Regions from separate parts of the Homo sapiens genome. Here region 1 is linked to region 2. Evidence: fine-mapped expression QTL. A gene starts in region 2. The other region holds a variant in brackets. All regions are shown on one strand. Distances are between the middles of the regions.

Region 1 (9,247 bases), 54 kb after region 2:
TATGGCAAATTAGAGAGCACATGCTCTGTCTAAAGGGATGGCCGGGTGCGGCGGCTCACGCCTGTAATCCCAGCACTTTGGGAGGCTGAGGCTGACGGATCACTAGAGGTCAGGAGTTCAAGACCCCCCTGGCCAACATGGTGTAACCCCCTCTCTACTAAATATACAAAAAAATTAGCCAGGTGTGGTGGTGCACGCCTGTAATCCCAGCTACTCAGGAGGCCGAGGCAGGAGAATTGCTTGAACCTGAGAGGCAGAGGTTGCAGTGAGCCAAGATCGTGCCACTGCACTCCAGCCTGGGCAACAGAGCAAGACTCCATCTCAAAAATAAACAAAAACAAAAATTAATAAAAATAATAAAGGGAGAACCACTACTCCCATCAGCCAAGTGCTATCCTGGAGAAATGCAACCTGGTGGTCCCAGTTCTTCCAGTTGCTTAAGTGGGAAATCCAGACTTTAATGTAAAATATGCTAATTAATTAAAGGTTTAAAAAAAAAAAACCCAAACATTATGTGGGCCAAACAAGACTTGCCTGTAGGCCACCAGTTTATGTCTATGTAGGCCCTGGAGAGCTGTGAATGGTTTATAGTCAAGGAAGGGACATAGTCAGATGTGTGTGTTTTCAAAGATTCCTCTGGGATGGTATGGAGGCTGGGCTGAAGGAGCACAGGGGTTGGCCAAGACCTGTGAGGAAGCTGGTAAATCATTCATTTAATCTTTCATCCATTTAATCCTTCATTCATTCACCTAGCCCCTTCTCTGCAACAGGCCCTGAGCAGTTGCAGGAATCTCGATGAGAGACAGCACAGCAGAGGTCCTGGAGATGGTAGTTAAAGGCAGAATTGAGAAATCCAAAGGAAAACTGACAGGTACCAACAGGCTGTACTGGTAATGGCAGGGGCGGTCTGCAGGGTACTGGCTAGGGTGAGGGCTGCTGGGTGATGGTGCTGAGCAGGAGATGTAGGAAAGAGGGAGATCCGTTTTTGGACAAGCTGAGTTTGTAGTGCCTGGGGGATATCCAAGAAGAGGGTCCAGCAGGCAGCTGGGCCTACAAGCAACCCCGTTCCGTTACACACTCAGTAGCCAAAGCAAATAGAGCTCCTGATCCCCTCAAACCTGCTCCAAAACCATGGCTTTAATGCTCAGGCCCAAATCCCTAATCACCCTTGACTTTCACACCCCACGTCTATCAGCAAAACATAATGGAGTTACCATCAGAATATATCCAGCATCTGGCTACTGCCATCTGGACCCCCCACCATCTCTCACCTGGATTATCCCTGCCTTTTCCTTTGTCCCATAGCTTATTCTCAACACAGCAGCCAGAGGGATCTTAGTAAAACCCGAGACAAATCATGTACCCCTCTGCTCGGAACCAGGCAGTGTCTCCCCATCCCATGCAAAGTAAAAGTAAACTCCTTAGAATGGCTCAGAAGCCCCTGCATCTTCAGGCCCCGTCACCTCCTCTGCCCTTTCTGCTGCTGCTCTCCCTCTCCCTCACGCTGCTTCAGCCACGCGGGGTGCCTCGCTGTGCGCCTTGCTGTGCCTTGAACACGCCTGCCTCCATGCCTTGGCGCTGCCTGCTTCTTCTGCATGGAGAGATTTCTCTCCAAATATCTGCATGGTCGGCTCCCCAAGGCTTTCCCTGACCCATGCAATGTAAAACAGCCTCCTCCCCAGCTCTGGCTGGCATTCTCCACCCTCTTATTCTAATCAGTTTTCCTCCATAGTACCTGTCACCATCTGACATATCACATATATTCGCTTATTGCTTGTGGTGTGTTGCTCTCATTAAAATGCCAGCTCCAGGAGGTGGGGACTTTGCTGTGCTATCTGATATATCCCAGAGTTGAGACCTGGCACACATGCAGTAAGCAAGGAAGATCCTCATACGGATTTGTTCCATGAATGACTGAATGACCTAAGATGCAGAGCCACCTGTGCCCTCCTTGGCTCAAAACCCTCCTCATTCTTGCCGGAAATGTAAATTAGTTGTAATCTTTTTAGAAGGACATTTATCAATTTCTATCAAAGTTTACAACGCGCATAGCATTTGAGCCACCAAGCCCACCTCTAAGCATGGTCCTAAAGATAGACCTGGGGTCCTGAAGATGGTCCTGGGGTACACAAGGGCATGGCTAGTGATGAGAACAAGACGGGGAGGCAGGTTCTGTGAACTGTGGGACAACCACGCAGAGCACCGGGCAGCTACTAGAAGGTGTGGGGTAATGAGGGAAAGCACCCAAGATAAATTAATTGAAAAAGGCCAGGGGACAGCATCGCTACTGGGATCCCACGCGTGTAGCCAAGGAAAAGGACACACATGGATGGGTTTATTTATAAAGAGAATTTCTGGATGGAATCCTATAAAACTTTTAGCAGTGACTGCCTCTCAGAAGGAAGAGCGGGGATCTGAGGGTGGGAGAAGCTTTTCTTTGTGCGCCCCTTTGTGATGTTTAAATTGTGGTTATGTGCGCACATAGTCCTTTTTTTTTCCAATGGACAATAAAGAGAAACCTTTAATGACTCACTCTTACCTTTGGGGTAAAGTCCAGCTCTTTAATATGCTCCTAAGCCCCTATGTTTCTACTTAAGTGCTGGGATTTATCTTTCATTACCCACTCCCACCCCCAAAACATGTACACACACAGATACACACTCTCTCTCTCCCCCACCATCTCAGCCTCTACACACCCTCTTCTGGAGGAATCTCTCCCTCCCTTCTTGCCTGGCTGTCTCTTATTACACCTTCAGATCTCCGTTAAAACACCTCCTCCTCTAGTGGGCCTTGTTTGGCTACCAGCTTCCTGGGGATTCCTGTAGCCTCTCGTTCCTCCTCTAACAAGGCTCATGTCACTCTGCATCTGGCCATTTACACCTCTGGGTCCCTGGCCAGACCTCAGGTCTCTGGATGGGGACACAGTCGATACTGTTCACTACTGGGTCCCTCAGGCTCTGGCTTATGAGGTGGGGGAGGGGGACCATCACTAAGAGGGAACACAGGAAGAGGAACAGTTTTGCAGAGGATCATGGGGCACTGGGTTTCGGAAGTGGAACTGGAGTGCCCATGGGACTTATGGGGGGTGACATCCAGGAGGCAGTAGGAAGCAGGCCAGAAGCACGGGAGAGGTCTGGTTGGAATTCGTGG[G/C]ATCACTGGATGGTCACCAGCCTGCAGGGGTCAGGCAGGCATCAGATTTGAGTGGCGTGAATTGAGTCCATCTTCATCTTTGGCCTTTTGATAGTGATATGGGCACAAATATTTGTTTTCTCCTACAAGGGAGATGATGAAAGACTCCTGACATCCCCAGACTGAGGGAGACAAGAGGGAGTGGTGGGGACTGTGGCAAACTAGAGGGCACTGGCCCCTTCTAAAGGGGCAACGGCACTCAATTCCTGCCAGCTGTGGCCAATTAGGAATCATTCCATTAACTCAGCATTTACTGAGCACACAGGCAATGTTCTAGGCATTATTCTTGGGACTGGGGATACAGCAGTGAATAAGAAATGTGGGGTCCCTGCCTTATAGATGCAGAAAGATTGGGAGGAGAGAAATAAACAAGTGGCAAATAAATCATAGTATTTCAAATAATGGATGCTGTGAAGACAAAGGAGTGGGCAGCTGGTTTAGACATGTGGTCAAGAAAGGCCCCTCTGAGGCAGTTACCATCTGAGCCAGCCATGAAGAGCTGGAGTGGAGTCGGAAAGGGGGTGGCAGCGGAAGAGGAGGCAGCAAATCACATGAGGCATGGTGGAGGAGGGGGGTTTAGCCTAAGGGCACTGGAAACCCTGGAAGTATTTTCTTTTTATTTGAGACAATGTCTCACTCTGTTGCCCAGGCTGGAGTGCAGTGGCGCGATCTCGGCTCACTGCAGCCTTGACCTCCTGGGCTCAAGTGATCCTCCCACCCCAGCCTCTCAATGTAATAGGATTATACCTTGATCTCTTGAGGCCAAGAGTTCCAGACCAGCATGGGCAACATAGCAGGATCTCGTGTCTACAATAGGATTATACCTAGCGCCTAGTGAGCCACTGTATCCCGCCCCTTGGAAGTATTTAAGCAGGGAAGTGAATGTGGCCGCTGTGCCTCCAGGTTTCCTAAATTTTTTTTTAGCTAAGTCATAAATCTGGATATCTGTATTTTATTTATTTATTTATTGAGACAGAGTTTTGCTCTTGTTGTCCAGGCTGGAGTGCAATGGTGCTATCTTGGCTCATTGCAACCTCTGCCTCCCAGGTTCAAGTGATTCTCCTGCCTCAGCCTCCCAAGTAGCTGGGATTACAGGCATGCGCCACCATGCCCAGCTAATTTTGTATTTTTAGTAGGGACAGGGTTTCTCCATGTTGGTCAGGCTGGTCTCGAACTCCTGACCTCAGGTGATTTGCCTACCTTGGCCTCCCAAAGTGCTGGGATTACAGACATGAGCTACCGCGCCCAGCATGGATATCCATGTTTTAAATATTGGCTAATTTAAAAAATATCATACAGGCTAAACAAAACACTTTTTTTTTTTTTTTTTGAGACAGAGTCTTACTCTGTCACCCAGGCTGGAGTGCAGTGGTACAATCTCAGCTCACTGCAACCTCTGCCTCCCGGGTTCAAGCAATTCTCGTACCTCAGCCACCCGAGTAGCTGGGGCTACAGGCGCACATCACCATGCCCAGCTAATTTTTTAAATTTTTACTAGAGACAGAGTTTCACCGTGTTGGCCAGGGTGGTCTCGAACTTCTGGCCTCAAGTGACTGGCTGCCTTGGCCTCCCAAAGTGCTGCGATTACAGGCATGGTCCACCATGCCCGGCCAAAACACTTTCATGAGCCAACTTTGACCCCTAGGTCACCAGCTTGCAACCTCTGATCCATCTGGCCCTTGGCCTATGGAAAAGGACGTTATAAGCCAGGGTGACCGGGAAGATGGTCAAGGGAAAGGGCCCTGGGGCGGAGTTCCGCGGCTGTAATCCCAGTGCTTTGGGAAGTCAAGGTGGGATGACTGCTTGAGGCCAGGAGTTCCAGATCAGCATGGGCAACACGGCAAGATCCCGTCTCTACAAAAACTTTAAATTAAAATTAAAAAAAAAAAAGAAATTAGCCAGGTGTGGTGGCATGTACTTATAGTCCTGCCTGCTCCAGAGGCTGAGGCAGGAGGATCTCTTGAGTCCAGGAGTTTGAGGCTGCAGTGAGCTATGATCAGCCTGGGTAACAGAACAAGAAACTGTCTTTAAAACAGAGACAGGGAGAGAGAGAAAGGGCCCAGGCTCCAGTGAGGGCCAGGATCTGCCTACCATGCCTGCCTGTTTCCTTCTCTGGAAAACAGGAATTCAACAGCTGCCTGGCTGGTGTACAGGGAGTTTAGCTGGAGCTGGAAGGAGTCAGCAAAGGATATAGGAAGGGTGCTCTGGGCCCTCACTACCCCTCATTTCAGCCCTGGAAGCCCAGCCCTGGGGTCCTCACACACCAGCCCAGCCAATAAGCTCCTCTCCCTGGGTGCAGCCCGGGCAGAAAGTCAGGCCAGCCCACCGCTTATCAGCTCTGTGACTTCAAGCAACGCCCTTCTCCTCCTTGGGGACCCTGAAGAACCCACCTCCTGCTCCCCCAGGGCTATAGTGAGAATTAAAGAAAATGAGGGGTGTGCCTGACTCTGCTCACTTTAGGGCTGGGCTGTGTCTGTGGAAGGCCTGTTTTTATCTGCTCAGCCTGTCAGAGCCCAGCTGTGCTCCCAGGAGGGGGCAGGGGAGGAAAGGGTCTGCAGCAGGGACACAAACCAGCAAAACCTGACCCTCAGACAGGCTTGTTTGACCCACAGAGCTAAACACATTTTAAAATCAGTTTTAAAAAGGAATTAACCGATCAACTTCTAAACATTAGAAGATTTCATGTGACAGTAAGATTTCCAGCTTCTCTTGGAAAACTAAAATTTGGCAGTCTGAGCGTGCTTCCTGCCTGGCAACATTCAGCTGGAGCCCCAAAGGGACAGCCTCCTTAGATGGGGGTGTACTCTCCAATCAGCCACAATCCCCCCTCTTCCCCACGGTGTCCTAGACACTGAGGCTGACTGTCTGCTGCCATCAATCATGGAATTCTCACTGTCGTTTTTCTCACAGCCGGCCCTTCATGTATGTTACCCTCCTGGCCTGTAGCCACCTGAGTGTGGACCCTGGAGCACAATGCCATGAAAGGCAGAGGTGACCTTGTACAAGTCGAGCCCTTACTATGTGCAAATCCCACCCGCCTGCCAGGCAGCTGTTGTAGTCCTGTTTTCCAGAGGAAGAAACAGGTTCTAAGAGGCAAGCTTGGCTCAGCTGATAACATGCCCCTTCTGAAAGTCCCCAGGCTTCCCGTCCCCAACTTGTATTTTCCAGCCTCTGAGATGGGATAAAGTCCAGGGTAGGGACAGAGAGCCTGGTCAGGGAGGTAGAAAGATGTGGGGTCAAGCCCCAGCTTAGTCATTGACATCCTCTATGACTCTGAGTGAGTTTTTCTACTCCGTGGGTCTCAGTTTTCCAATCTGTGAAATGGGAGAGGGGATGTAGTTACATCTGGAAGAGATAGGCCAGCCCTGGGTTTCAGAACTGCCCCAAGACCACTCCCAGAGGCTCTACTGCTCACAGTTCTGCTGGGCCCTTCCTGGATCTTGGGGAGGCCTGAGGATCCTCGAGCTGCTTCTCTGAGAGGCAGCCCAGGCCTGAGGCCCCACATTCTCTCCCCGCAACTACCCCACTAGAACCCAGCTCCATTACCTGGGCCCAGCACGCTCACTGTCTTTCTTTTTTTGAGACCGAGTCTTGTTTTGTTGCCTAGGCCGGAGTGCAGTGGCATGATCTCGGCTCACTGCAATCTCCACCTTCCAGGTTCAAGTGATTCTCCTGCCTCAGCCTCCCGAGTAGCTGGGATTACAGGCATGTGCCACGACACCTGGCTAATTTTTGTATTTTTTGTAGAGACAGGGTTTCACCATGTTGTTTAGGCTGGTCTTGAACTCCTGGCCTCAAGTGATCCACCCACCTCGGCCTCTCAAAGTGTTGGGATTACAGGCATGAGCCACTGCACCCGGTCTCAGTCTCTTTTTATCATCTGGATCCCACAACAATCTCATGAGGGGGGCATTATCATCCCATTTCACAGATGAGGCCACTGAAGTCAGAGGGAGAAGACTTGACCAAGGGCACACAACTGGGGCACACAACTGGGGCACACAACTTGGTCAAGACTTGACCAAGGGCACACAACTGAGGGAAGGCTGTAGCTCAAAGCCAGTTGTGCCCAAGCACAAAACCTGAGTTCTTTCTAAGATCGTGGACACTGACACTTGGCTCTTTTTTTTTTTTTTTTTTTTTTTTTTTTTTTTTTTTTCTGAAGACAGGGTCTCACTCTGTTACCCAGGCTAGAGTGCAGTGACACAATCATACCTCCCTGTAGCCTCCAACTCCTCAGCTCAAGCAATCTTCCCTCATCAGACTCCTAAGTAGCTATAGGCATGCGCCATCACACCCAGCTAATCTTTAAATTTTTGTAGAGATGGGGGTCTTGGTATGTTGCCCAAGCTTGTCTCAAATTCCTGGCCTCAAGCAATCCTCCTGCCTGGGCTTCTCAAAGTATTGGGATTACAGGTATGAGCCACTGCACCTGGCCTGACACTTGGTTCTCAAAACCCCCTTTCTGGTTTTTGAGGTCAGGCCAAGGTTCCTCCCAAGCAACAGTGCCAAGGAGCATGCAGTAGAAGAAGCAAGAGCTCCCCTCCCCCTGCATACATTCCCCCACCTGTGGGAACGCACACACCCTATGAGCAGATGAGCCTGTACACTTGGGCACAAACAGGTTGAGTGTGGCCTGACTGAGGCAGAAGGCAGAAATGTCTGCTAGGTATGTAGGCGGGCTCACCTGGCATGCAAAGGAGTGAACAGACTGCTTGTGGATGTATGTACCAGCTTGGGCCACTCTGGGGCCAGGACCTGGCTCCTGTGTTCTGCTCAAGAAGAGCTTGTTGTGCGTATGTACACCCTGCATGTGCAGAATGGCCTGTGTGTTTGTGCCTCGTGGGGGCTACTTGGACCCTGTGGGTATCTCACTCCTAGGAGAGCTTATCTGGGTGTTGCACAGGTGCCTGTGTCCTGCTCCCAGGGAGAGCAGCAGCCCCTGTGGCTGCCCATTCAGGCCACAGAGACCTGGCCAGCCATTCCTTTCCCTCTAGGATTTCTTTCCAGCATGGAGCTATCCTTACACCCATAAACAGGGCCAGAACTGCCAAGCACCTGCAAATACCTCTTCTGTGCTGACAAGACCAACAAAGGCTTGAGGGACTTCGTCAGGCATCTGAGTGTGTCTGAGAATCTCAGTCTGCTGCCCCTCGTCCCCTTCTCTCGTAGTGCCCTCAGAGCAGCGAAGTCTCCTGCTCGGGGGTGTGGGGGGAGAAGGAATCTAAAGGTGTTAGCCAGACCTGCTTCCAGAAACGGCCCTCAGACCATGCATACATACATACATAGGAGGGCAAGAATGGACGTTCATGGACGTGCAAACGTGGGCCAGTGTGGGTGGGAGTGGGCAGCACGCTAAGAGACAGAGTGTGTGTGTAAGAGGGAGTGTGTGCACAAGGGTGGCAGTCTACTCCAGGGTATCTGGGTACGCAAGGGACCCCATGAGCAGGGGTGAGCAGGCCAGGGCAGGGTGGCCCCGAGTGTGTTGTGATCAGGGAGTATTGTTGAGTTGATGTCCATGCTGTGATCCGCGATGGCTGGTTTGAGTGCGTAGCTGTGCCTGGGTGTGTACGCAAGGCTCCCACCCAGTACCCTGGGTGACAGGTGGCCGTGTGTATGAGTCTAATGGAATGACCAACAGCCATTGTGTGTGTGCGGTAGACCTGTGGCCTCACTCGAGGAAATGAGGCGCCCGTGCGTGAACGCGGTGTTGTGTGATCGCGCCCCGGAGTGTGTGCCACACTGGTTGTGTGACGGCGAGTGTGCTCAGTAGTGCGAGTGGAGCCAGTGGAGCGTTGAGCTCGCTCCGGGGAAGATGAATCAACGCGGGAGGACGCCCTCCCCCCAGTGGCGGGAAGCACCCCCTCCCGCGCGGCCATGCCGAACAAAGCCAGCGGGCGGCGGCAAGGCCGGGCGCGGGGCCGACCCCACAGCCAGGTCAGCCTGGCCCGCCGGGCCCCTCTGATGTTCGGCCCAGGGCTGCGGGACCCGCCCCCGCCCCGCCCCGCCCCGCCCCGCCCCGGCGAGGAGCCTGGAAACAGACACCCACCGCCCCCAG
Region 2 (11,167 bases):
CACCATGTTGGCCAGGCTGGTCTTGGACTCCTGGCCTGAAGTGATCTGCCTGCCTCAGTGTCCCAAAAGTGTTGGGATTACAGGCGTGAGCCACCGCACTCGGCCGAGAAGTTTTTCTGATTAAAAAAAATTTTAAGGCACACACTTCAGACAGTGGCTGTGAAGGAACCCTGATGTGTATCTAAACTGTCGCCTCGTGCACATCACCCCATTACTTACTCTGTGCTAAGTGCTGTCATGCATTACATCATTACTCCTTAGAACAGGCCTATGAGGTGGAGTCTGCATTAGGCCCATTTTGGACAAGGACACCAATAGTGTGGGAGGTGGTGTACCTTGCCCAAGCCCCCAGCAGGTAAGTGGTGGTGGGGATTAGGACCCAGGTCACTTGAGTCCATATCCTGGGCTCTTAGTCCCACTCTGCCTGGCTGCCTGCTGCTCCGTGAAGCCAACCCTGGACCTAGACCTGGACCTGGATCGTCATAGCCCAGATCCCTGTGTGCTTCCCAGGCTGCCTTGTGGCAGGTGGATGGTGCCCCTCGAGATGGGCAGGGCACCATCTGGCCACACGTGCCTCATCGTGATGGGTCCAAAGGTCTGGGCAGGCCAGGACACACCTCTGTCAACCAGAGCAGTGACTCAGAGCTGTCGGCCTCAGCCGTAAGGGCAGGGAGAGGGGGCAGGGGCTTGGGTTGGGGTCTGCCCTATTTGGGGCACAGCAGAGCGACCAGGCTGACTCCCATGGTCTGAGGCAGAGCGGGGAGCCTGGAGCCTTGGGTGGGGTCACCTGCCTCTCTTCTTACTGGTTAAGCCACCAGCGATGACTAGTGCCTACTTCCTTCAGAGAGGAATCTGACGGCTGTGGCAGGAAAGTCAGGGGCAAGAATTGTTGCACAGATATGCTAATATCTCAGTTCTGCCACTTTCTGTAATCTCGGGTGGTGATCTAATCTGTCTAAGGTCTATTTTCCCATCTGTAATGGGGAAAAAAATCATCCCTGGAGTTATTGGCAGGATTAAATGAGGTGATATTAGTAATGCAATAGTCACCACCATGCCCCCACGAAAACTAACATTCATTGAGACCTTATTGTGTTGGGCATTGTGCTCAGGACTTCAAATGGGTGACTTCATTACATCCTCACCATCACCTGCCCAGGTAGGCATCATGTATTACCTGCAACTTACAGATAAGGAAACCGTCTTAGAGAGGTTATGCAACTTGCCCTGCCAAAATTGAACCCATTGTGAATATACAGTAGATAAAAAAAATAATAAAAATAAAATGAAATTAAAAATTGTGGCTGGGCAGGGCGGCTCACACCTGTAATCCTAGTACTTTGGGAGGCCGACACGGGTGGGTCACCTGAGGTCAGGAGTTTGAAACCAGCCTGGCCAACATGGTGCTCAAAAAAAAAAAAAAAAAAAAAAAAAAATTGAACCCAGCAGTCTGACCCCAGAGGAGCCTGGTCTCTGGTCTCTTAACCCCTGCATTGTAATAGTCGCATCGAGCGCTACCCAGTGTCTGCAGCATCCTTTCCTCAGAAACACTTCTCAAAAAGAGGAAAAGCCTCTTGGGTATCAAAACTCAGAACTGCATCATAGCTCCCAGAGCCTGGCTATACGCAAAGTGGTCTTTTTGGTCTTTTTTTTTTTTTTTGAGATGGAGTCTTGCTCTGTCACCCAGGCTAGAGTGCAGTGGGACAATCTTGGCTCACTGCAACCTCTGCCTCCCGGGTTCAAGTGAATCTCCTGCCTCAGCCTCCTGAGTAGCTGAGATTACAGGCACCTGCCACCGTGCACAGCTATTTTTTGTATTTTTAGCAGAGACAGGGTTTTACCATTTTGGCCAGGCTGGTCTCGAATTCTTGACCTGGTGATCCACCCGCCTCAGCCTCCCAAAGTGCTGGGATTACAGGCGCGAGCCACCAGCCTATGCAAATGTTTTAAAATGGATGGATGCTGGACTCAATGGATCTCAATTCCCTTTTTTCTTTGCCTGGGGGGAAGCTCAGAACCTGATTCATGACCCATCTCTACAATTACCCAGAACTTGAAGGCAAATATATATATATATATAATTTGTTTATTTTTTGAGAGAGAAGCTCTTGTTGTCTAGGCTGGAGTGCAGTAGCTATTCATAGGCACAGTCTCACTACTGATCAGCACCTGAAGTTTGACCTGCTCTGTTTCTGACCTGGGCTGGTTCAGCCTTTCTGAGGCAACCTAGTGGTCCTCTGCTCCTTGGGGTTCACCATATTAGTGCTGAATTTAGTGTGGACACCCCATCAGCATAGTGCCCTACAGCACAGAAATCCTGGCCTCAAGCCATCCTACTGCTGCAGCCTCCCAAGTAGCTGGGACTACAGGTGCACAGCAGTGCCCCCAGCTCAAGACAAGTATTTTATGGCCTCAATTCAGGCGTAGATTACCCTTATTTTTCTCACTTGACTTCCCTTCATCTGGGTTTCTTCTTTTTATGCTGGTGGCGTATAAATTTTGTTACTATGTTTTACATTTGGAGAGTTGGGAAGCAAACTATTAAAATGCCTGACTATAGCAACTGCCTGATATACAGTCAACACAACCCTTAACAACGGGGACACCTTCTGGGAAATGTGTCATCAGGCAATTTCGTCATTGTGTGAACATCACACAGTGACTTACACAAACCTAGGCGGTACCACCTACTACACACCCAGTCTCTATACCACCGCCTGTGCTCCTGGGCTGCTAACCTATGCAGCCTGGGACTGTACCGCACGCTGCAGGCAACTGTAACACAGGGGTAAGTATTTGTGCATGTAAACACAGAAAGGGTGCCATGAAAGATGATATTATACTCTTATGGGACCGCTATTATATGTGTGGTTCGTTGTTGACCAAAACACAGATATATGGTGCATGACTATATATCTATTGTGAATTAGACATGTCCTCTGCCCACAAGAAGAGGGCCACCCAATGGTGACGACTCAGTGGTGTGCCTTAAGAAAGTTGTGCCCAGGGTCCCCTTTCTGTGTCAACTGTGATGGCTGGGCCAAAGTGAGGATAAGAAGGACTTGTGGCTGAGCCCCTTCGGGAGGCCACCACATCGGGCAGCGCTTAAAGCCAGCCTGGGGGCCGAGCTCCGTGGCTCATCCCTGTAATCCCAGCATTTTGGAAGGCCGAGGCAGGCGGATCGCCTGAGGTTAGGAGTTCGAGACCAGCCTGGCCAACATGGTGAAACCCTGTTTCTACTAAAAATACAAAAAAAATTAGCCGGGTGTGGAGGCCCACGCCTGTAATCCCAGTTACTCGAGAGGCTGAGGTAGGAGAATTGCTTGAACCCAGGAAGCAGAGATTGCAGTGAGCCAAGATTGTGCCACTTCACTCCAGCCTGGGTGACAGAGCAAGACTCTGACTCAAAAATAAATAAATAATTAAAAAAAAAAGGCAACTTGGGAGTGGATGAAGCCCCTGGGGACGGGCAGATGCCTTTTGAGGGTCTCAATGCGGGGTGAGATCAGTGTCAACAGGCTCGAAAGTGGGTTGTCCAGGCTCAGCTAGCCCCCAGTCCTCCACGAGAACCTCACAGGGGCTGGTCTGGCCACACAGTGTTTGATTGTTACACTGTTTTACCACTTCCCTCTCCTGACTCAATCCCCCACTTGTCCACAGATCCCCTGTCACTGAAGACTCGTAGCAGGGAGGGGACGGGGGCTCTGGCATCACCTTCTGACTGTCACCGTCCCCGCCTCCAGCCTGCCCCAGTGTTGGGCCTTGTTCCCAGGTCCTCTGGGCTCAGGGTCGGCCAGGCCCCTTCTCCTGTGGTGTGGGCCTCCAGCCCCAGGAGCGCCAGGAGCTCTGGCGCCTTGGTCCCTTCCTCCTGTCCGGCGCCCCCAGCTGTACTCTGCCTCATTAGGAGTCGACCCCTCCTGGGAGGTGTGGTCTCTGGCAGGGTTAATGATTGCTCAGTGGAGGTGGAGATGGTGCCAAAGTCTGCTGGCCACATAGCTGCAGGCCGCAGAGGGTGCCCACCTGTGTGCCAGCGCCTGTCCGGCGCCTGCCTGCCGCCTCCGTGGCGAAGGGGACACAGGTAGGGACTATCCAGCTCATCGGGGGTCTCTGGGCCAGAGAAATGTGGGGGTTGGGGGGATCCCTAGAGCCAAGGCAAGCTTGGGGGTCTTTAAAAGTCTCCCCTGAAGCTGGGCAGGGGAAGTCACACGCTAGATGGGGCAGAGCCGGGTCAGGTCCCAGCCTGCTGTGAGGCCTGTTTCTTTGGTAAACATGGGATAATAATACCTCCTTCCCTGGGGGCTGATGGCCCCCTTCCCATCCAAGTCCTCAAGGGATGATTCTTCAGAGGATGGAAGGGAGGCAGGCACCCCAGGGAAACGAGGTAACTGGCCTGACCCCTTCATAGGATGCTCAGGGGTTGAGGACGGGGAAGCTGACCTGGGCTCTTACCCCAGCTGCTCGGTTCACATCCCAGCTCCACCCTGACCTTGGTGGGCTACTTAACTCTTCTGGGCCTCCGTTTCCTCATTTATCAAATGGGGATGAGAAGAGTTCCAGAAAGGGCCTGAAAAGCCCTGAGGCAAAGGTGAGCATGTGGCCTATGACCGAGCCCAGTGCCACCTCAGCCAGTGCTAGGAAGTGTCAGGCAGGGACTGACCCAGGCTGGCCCCAGCTCTGCCCAGTCCGGGCCTTGCACATCTCTCTGCCCTGGTAGAGGAGGTGGTGACCCAGCTGAGAGTCGGGGCCATGCTGCGTCACTCAGGCAGGCCTGTGCTGGGTTGGGCACCAGGCACAAGGCAGGGTCCCAGTGAGCACCGAGGTCCGGCAGATGGAAACAAGTCATGGCCCGTGTGTAGACCCCTTGATTTTTATCCTCACTCTGCTTCTCAGCAGGGGAAACTGAGGCCTGGAGAGGGGAGAGGGCTTGCCTGGGGTTGCACAACAAATATGTGAAATGCTGCCATCTGAACCCAGGGCTGTTTGAGTCTGTATGTGTCTGCTGGGCCAGGTGGCCTGGGCCATAGGCACTGGGAGGGCCCGTGGCGGGGAGCTGCGTGCTCAGGTCCCACATCCTTGCTCCGGGCACCCAGGCTCGGCTGGAGTCCGCTCTGTGGGTGCAGGCACGGCCTCCTGGATCAACGGAGCCCAGACCAAGGCTTGCCCAGGGACCCCTGGATTTGGAGGCAGCCTGGGTCTAACCTGCTGCCCCTGGCTCACCCATCTCTGGGCATCTATGAGCCTCGGTTTCCTTGGAATAATAGGATAGGATAATTCCTGCTTGGGAACAGCTGTGAGAAGTAAATGAAAAAGCAGAAGTGAAAGTGCATGGCGAGCTGGCCGTGTAGCGGTGGCGGTGCTGGGGGAGCTCTGTAGCATCGTGGCTGAGTGCACCCCGGGGGCTCCCCACACTGAAGGAGGACCCACCTCCCCACCCTGACCCTCCTGGAGGTCCTGGGCAGTCCGGGTATCCTCACTCCCAGTGGTTCCAAATTCTAGAAAATCTTGGCACCGTGGACTGCTCTGAGATGCGGCTGAAGCCTCCTCTCAGCCAAGGCTGAAGAGCTGGCACCTCCTGGGCCAGGTGGGACCAGTGAGGATTCCTGGAGACTACACATCTCATGGCGTGGGGGCCAGAGTCTCCCTGATTCTTCTCTGTGTCCTTTTTGGTCCTTCCCTAAGCACTTTCTTTTTGAGACGGATTCTCACTCTGTTGCCCAGGCTGGAGTGCAAGGCGCTATCTCGGCTCACTGCAACCTGTGCCTCCCTGGTTCAAACGATTCTCCTGCCTCAGCCTCCTGACTAGCTAGGATTACAGGTGCACGCCACCACGTCTGGCTAATTTTTTTTTGTGAGATGGAGTCTTGCTTGTCGCCCAGGCTCCAGTGCAGTGGTGCGATCTCAGTTCACCACAACCTCTGCCTCCTTGGTTCAAGTGATTCTCCTGCCTCAGCCTCCCGAATAGCTGGGATTACAGGTGTGCGCCACCATGCCTGGCTAATTTTTGTATTTTTAGTAGAGACAGGGTTTCACCATGTTGGTCAGGCTGGTCCAGGCATTTTTTGAGAGCAGGGAAACAACAGTAGTGGCCGGAGGGCTTGAGAACAAGGAAGCAGTAATTTCTGGAATATAGATAGTCCCCATTTTAAATTACTTTATTTTATTTTTATTTTTTGAGACAAGGTCTTGCTCTGTCGCCCAGGCTGGCGTGCAGTGGCGCGATCTCGGCTCACTGCAGCCTCAACCTTCTGGGCTCAAGTGATCCTCCCACTCTAGCCTCCCAAAGTGCTGGACTGTGTTTGCTCCTTTAAAAAATGAGAACTATTGGTATTGGCCTGGACTGCCACCACACCTAGCCAAGAGTTCTCTTTTTTTTTTTTTTTTTTGAGACAGAGTCTCGCTCTGTCACCCAAGCTGGAGTGCAGTAGCGGCATCTCGGCTCACTGCAAGCTCCGCTTCCCGGGTTCACGCCATTCTCCTGCCTCAGCCTTCCAAGTAGCTGGGACTACAGGCGCCCGCCACCACGCCTGGCTAATATTTTTTTTTTTTTTGGGGAACTTTTAGTAGAGACGGCGTTTCACCATGTTAGCCAGGATGGTCTCGATCTCCTGACCCCGACCCCGTAATCGGCCCGCCAAAGTGCTGGGATTACAGGCGTGAGTCACCGCGCCCGGTTAATAGTTCCCATTTTTAAAAGGAGCAAACAGAGAAAAGAGCCCAGGGGTACGGTTGTGCAGTGACTGGGACCTTGTTTCACACCCATGCGTTGGCCTGAGGCTGCCCCAGCAGGGAAAAGCGGGTGCCTGTCCGCAAGTCCCAGCCCAGGGGCAACTCCATTCACTCGGTTTCCATTTGTGCCTTGCTCCTGCCCCTTGCTGGGGTACCAGGAAATGAGGAGCCCAGAGTGGGGGCCACCAACTGCCTGAACACAGCTCCACAGCTGATCTGGGCCTTACAGAATGGAGAGGATTTGCATGTAGGCAGAAGGCAAAGAAAGACATTCTGGGCAGAGGGAATGGTTTAGGCAAATGGAGGAAGGACAATGCAGGGTGTGGACCGAGAACAGGAGCATTCAACACCACTGGACCTCAGGAGTGGGAGAGAGCAGCTCGTGTGGAAAAAGCAAGACCCAGGACCTCCAAGGACCTCGCCTGTCAGGCTGAGGGGCAGGCAGTGTGTCCTGCAGCCAGTGGGAGCCATGGAGGAGATTTGAGCTTGGGAGTGACCTATCATGGGGAAGGCTTAGCATTGGGGCAGGCCGTTATTGCGCCTTCGCCAGCCCACACAGACACTGTGCTTTTTCCCCAAGTGACTGAATCCAGAGGCAGATGCTCTGGACTGTAGAACGCCAGCCTCATCATGATCATGAGGAGGCAGGACTGCGAGAAACCCGGGGCCAACCCCAGCAGAGCAGGAGGCAGGCGAGGCAGGGATGAGGCAAGAAAGAGCACTGGCCTGGGAGGCAGACAGGGTGGCACCCCCACTCTGCCGCTGACAGCCTTGGAGCTGCTGGGCAGGAACCCTGGCCTCCTGCACTCATGTCTGTGTGCATAAAGGGGATTGATGAATCCAGCTCTTCCTTCCAGGGGGATGGCTGGGCCCACATGCAGGGGAGAGACTGTGCGTGCATCACACAAATGCAAAGGGGCATCGCTGTTGCTCTGAGTGAGGGTCCCCAGGCTTCTTGAGGCCCTCCATCCTGCCCTGTGAGATGGGGAGGGGGGAGTTGGGAGACACTTCCATGAGGGAGAAGCGTGGCGTGTATGGGGAAGGGGCTGTAGGGGGAGGCGCCTCGGGGACTGGGTGAAGGTCCTGGTTCGGGCTGTTCTCTCTCAACATCACATGTTTGTGGGCTCAGCATGACCTGTGGGAAAATCGGGCAGCTCAAGAAGGAAAACCCAGGAGCCTAGAAAAGAGAGAAGGCACAGGCCTGGCTTGGGTTCTGCCCATTACTGGCTGGGCCGCGCCCTTTCCCCTCTTGGACGTCAGTTTGCTGAGGACTAAATGGTAATGGGGGCAAAGTGCTAGCCTCGGTACACGGCCCTTCCTTGCCAGTTCCCATTTTCCTCTGGGACTGGGAGGAGGGACCCTGAGGGCAGGAATCTCCTGTCCTGCAGGCTGGACCCAGGGGAACTTTGTAATGATGATGAATCCATCTTGATACCTGCTGGCTGCACACCTAGTGACTAATTGTCCCGTGGCAGTTGACTCATTTCTGAAGGACAGAACATGAGAGAAAAAAGTGAGGAGGGAGGTAGGTTCCAGGTTACAGCCTCAGAGGGATGCCTGGGCTGGACGCATCCAGCCCCTGGCTGTTCCTTACACAATGGACACCTGCAGTCTAGCAGTACCGCTAATGCCCAGCTCACCTGCGTCTCCACCGCCAGCCCCGCCACCACCACCATCTCCCTCCCCCAACTGTCACCTCCACCAGCGCCACCTGCGTCTCCACCTTCATCAGCACACACATCATCAGCATGTCCGTCCCTACTTACCACCACCAGTGCCACCCCTACCCCCGAGGGATCCCTATCCTGATATTGGACCCTGCCTCCATGACCACCTCACTCACTGCCCTTGACTCCAGCGCTATGATGTCACTCTCCAGGGTGTAGCTGTACCCACATCGCTGTCCCTGTCTCACTGAGGACTGTGGCTCAGCACTGCTGGGGGTTCTGAGGACTGAGAACTTACTAATTCCCCTGAGCGGTGGGGCACATCTGTATTTATCAGTCTGGCTGAGTGCAGCCCTGCCGTTCAGCATGTGGGCTGTCCCCAGCTGTCATCTCCGGGGTTCTTGGCAAGCCAGCATTTTCCACAGCAACTTCCCAAGGTTCCCCTGGCTAGAGTCACATGGAAGGTAGCATGAGAAACAGCCCCAGGGCTCCTCCACACACAGCCCTGGCCCTGCCCATTTAGCTCTGACCTCTGCAAGCAGTCTCAGACCCTGGGGAGCGTGGATGGTCACCAGGGAGGGAGGAAGCTGTTTCCATGGTGATTGCAGTGGGAGGAGCAGCCATAAGGTGAGGACAACCCCACGGAAGGAAGAAGGTTTGCACTTGCTGAGCGCCTATTGTGTGCCAGGCGCTGAGGTGGCACATTCTTATTCCCACTCATCCCCCGCTGCCTACCCTCATCACTTAGTGGGGTTATTATTCTCACAGGGGAGGGAACGCTTAGAGAAGGGCAGTGAACTGCCCAGCGAAGCTCTGCTGCTCCTTGACTCTGTAAACTCAAGCCAGGCTCTTCACCTCTCTGAGCTTTGTTTTCCCCATCTGTAAAGTGGGTAGAATGGTACCAATCTAGAAGGGTTTTTTGTTTTTGTTTTTGTTTTGTTTTGTTTTGGAGACAGTGTCTCGCTCTGTCTCCCAGGCTGGAGTGCAGTGGCACGATCTCGGCTCACTGCAACCTCCACCTCCCGGGTTCACACCATTCTCTGGCCTCAGCCTCCTGAGGATTACAGGCACGTGCCACCACACCCAGCTAATTATTGTATTTTTAGTAGAGACGGGGTTTCACCATGTTGGCCAAGCTGGTCTTGAACTCCTGACCTCAAGTGATCTGCCCGCCTTGGCCTCCCAAAGTGCTGGGATTACAGGTGTGAGCCACCACACCCAGCCTCGAAGGGATTTTGTGAGCATTACGTAGTGCCCGGCTCAAGTTCTGAGAGGCAGGAGGTGCTTCCTCCACGAGTCTCTTGCTATTCATTGCTGTAATGTTTAACGGTTGCCAAACATCCCACCCAGGGCTTGTCCACATCTTTCTACATCATTGCCTGTGTTTCATGTTACGGTCACTTCCAGCTTCCCATGATTATAAATAATCACTCACGGTCAACAACTTTCTGCAAAAAGAGCTTCTTATTCTATGTTAGTTGGATGAGTAGGTCAACAGGGCAAACATTTTGAAGCTTTGGGGTCCACATCTGAACTGGGGTTTTCTCCTCTTGCTAGGGCCCTGGGGCCACGGGAGGCCTGCCTCCTTCTCCCTGCCTCAGGGAGAGGCGAGGGCCTTGGGATCGGAGAGTGGCTGTGAATCCCACTCACTTTCAGCTGTGAGGGCCTCAGCGGAACACTCCCAGCAAGAGCCTGTTTGCTCATCTGCAAAATGAGTTGCTGTGAAGATGAAATTCTATGAATCCCAAATATTCTGCCTCCAAACTATAGCCCTGCTCTTGCCTCCCCTCCAGCCCTGCTGCCCCCAGTTCAGCCCGGCGACACACAGCAGCCAGAAAGGTCTTAAGAGGAAATTACTGCCTGCCACTCCCCTGCTTAAAACTCTGAAATGGGCCAAGTGCAGTGGATGGCTCACGCCTGTAATCCCAGCACTTTGGGAGGCCGAGGTGGGTGGATCACCTGAGGTCAGGAGTTCGAGACCAGCCTGGCCAACATGGCAAAACCCCATCTCTACTAAAAATAAAAAAATTAGCTAGGTGTGGTGGCTCACGCCTGTAATCCTTCGGGAGGCTGAGGCAGCAGACTCGGTTGAACCCGGGAGGCAGAGGTTGCAGTGAGCCGAGATCGCCCCACTGCCCTCCAGCCTGGGAGACAGAGTAAGACTCCATCTCAAAACAAACAAAAAAAACCCCCTCTGAAATGACCTACTGTTTTTTGTTTTTCTTAGAATAAAATGAAACATCCTTCCTGTGTCTCATAGGGTGGAGCATGCTCTGGCCCTGCCAGATTTCTCAACCTGCCTCCCTCCCATGATTCCCCACCTCTCTCCCTGCAACCCAGCCACAGGGACCTTCTTTGAACTCCTGGAATACACCTGGTTCTTCCCTGGCCCAGGCCATCTCTCATATTGTTTGTGCTACTTGGGACTCCCGCATAACAGTGCTCACCTTATCACAGCAATATGGGCATTTAATTTTTAAAAATATCAAATAGGCCAGTCACGGTGGCTCACACCTGTAATCTCATCACTTTAGGAGGCCGAGATGGGAGGATCGCTTGAGCCCAGGAGTCTGAGGCTGCCCTGAGCCAGGATAGCGCCATTGCACTCCAGAATGGGTGACAGAGCAAGACCTTGTCTCAAGAAACACCTAAACAGGCCGGGCGCGGTGGCTCACGCCTGTAATCCCAGCACTTTGGGAGGCCGAGGCGGGCGGATCACAAGGTCAGGAGATCGAGACCATCCCGGCTAACATGGTGAAACCCAGTCTCTACTA

Alleles and levels. Alleles are on the strand shown, and positions count from the first base shown. SD is a standard deviation of normalised expression in the study named.
For the expression in anterior cingulate cortex of the gene that starts at base 4,006 in region 2, allele C in region 1 goes with a lower level than allele G (moderate effect, 0.42 SD a copy in GTEx).

What was found. PIP is the estimated chance that this variant, and not a neighbour inherited with it, causes the effect.
Region 1: its variant is fine-mapped to the expression of CDHR2 in anterior cingulate cortex (GTEx, PIP 0.95).

What each region holds. Positions count from the first base shown.
Region 1 is chr5:176,600,593-176,609,839 of GRCh38, forward strand. All of the region lies in intron 1 of GPRIN1 (G protein regulated inducer of neurite outgrowth 1), which reads right to left. Among named protein-coding and RNA genes, the nearest start is that of GPRIN1, 4.9 kb to the right of the region's middle. RefSeq lists a silencer at 9,145-9,204. The variant G/C (reference allele first, on the strand shown) is at 3,151.
Region 2 is chr5:176,545,337-176,556,503 of GRCh38, forward strand. It overlaps CDHR2 (cadherin related family member 2), which reads left to right and starts at 4,006. Exons shown (of 32, transcript NM_017675.6): 1 at 4,006-4,078. It also overlaps the pseudogene RN7SL684P. RefSeq lists enhancers at 4,278-5,211, 6,860-7,493.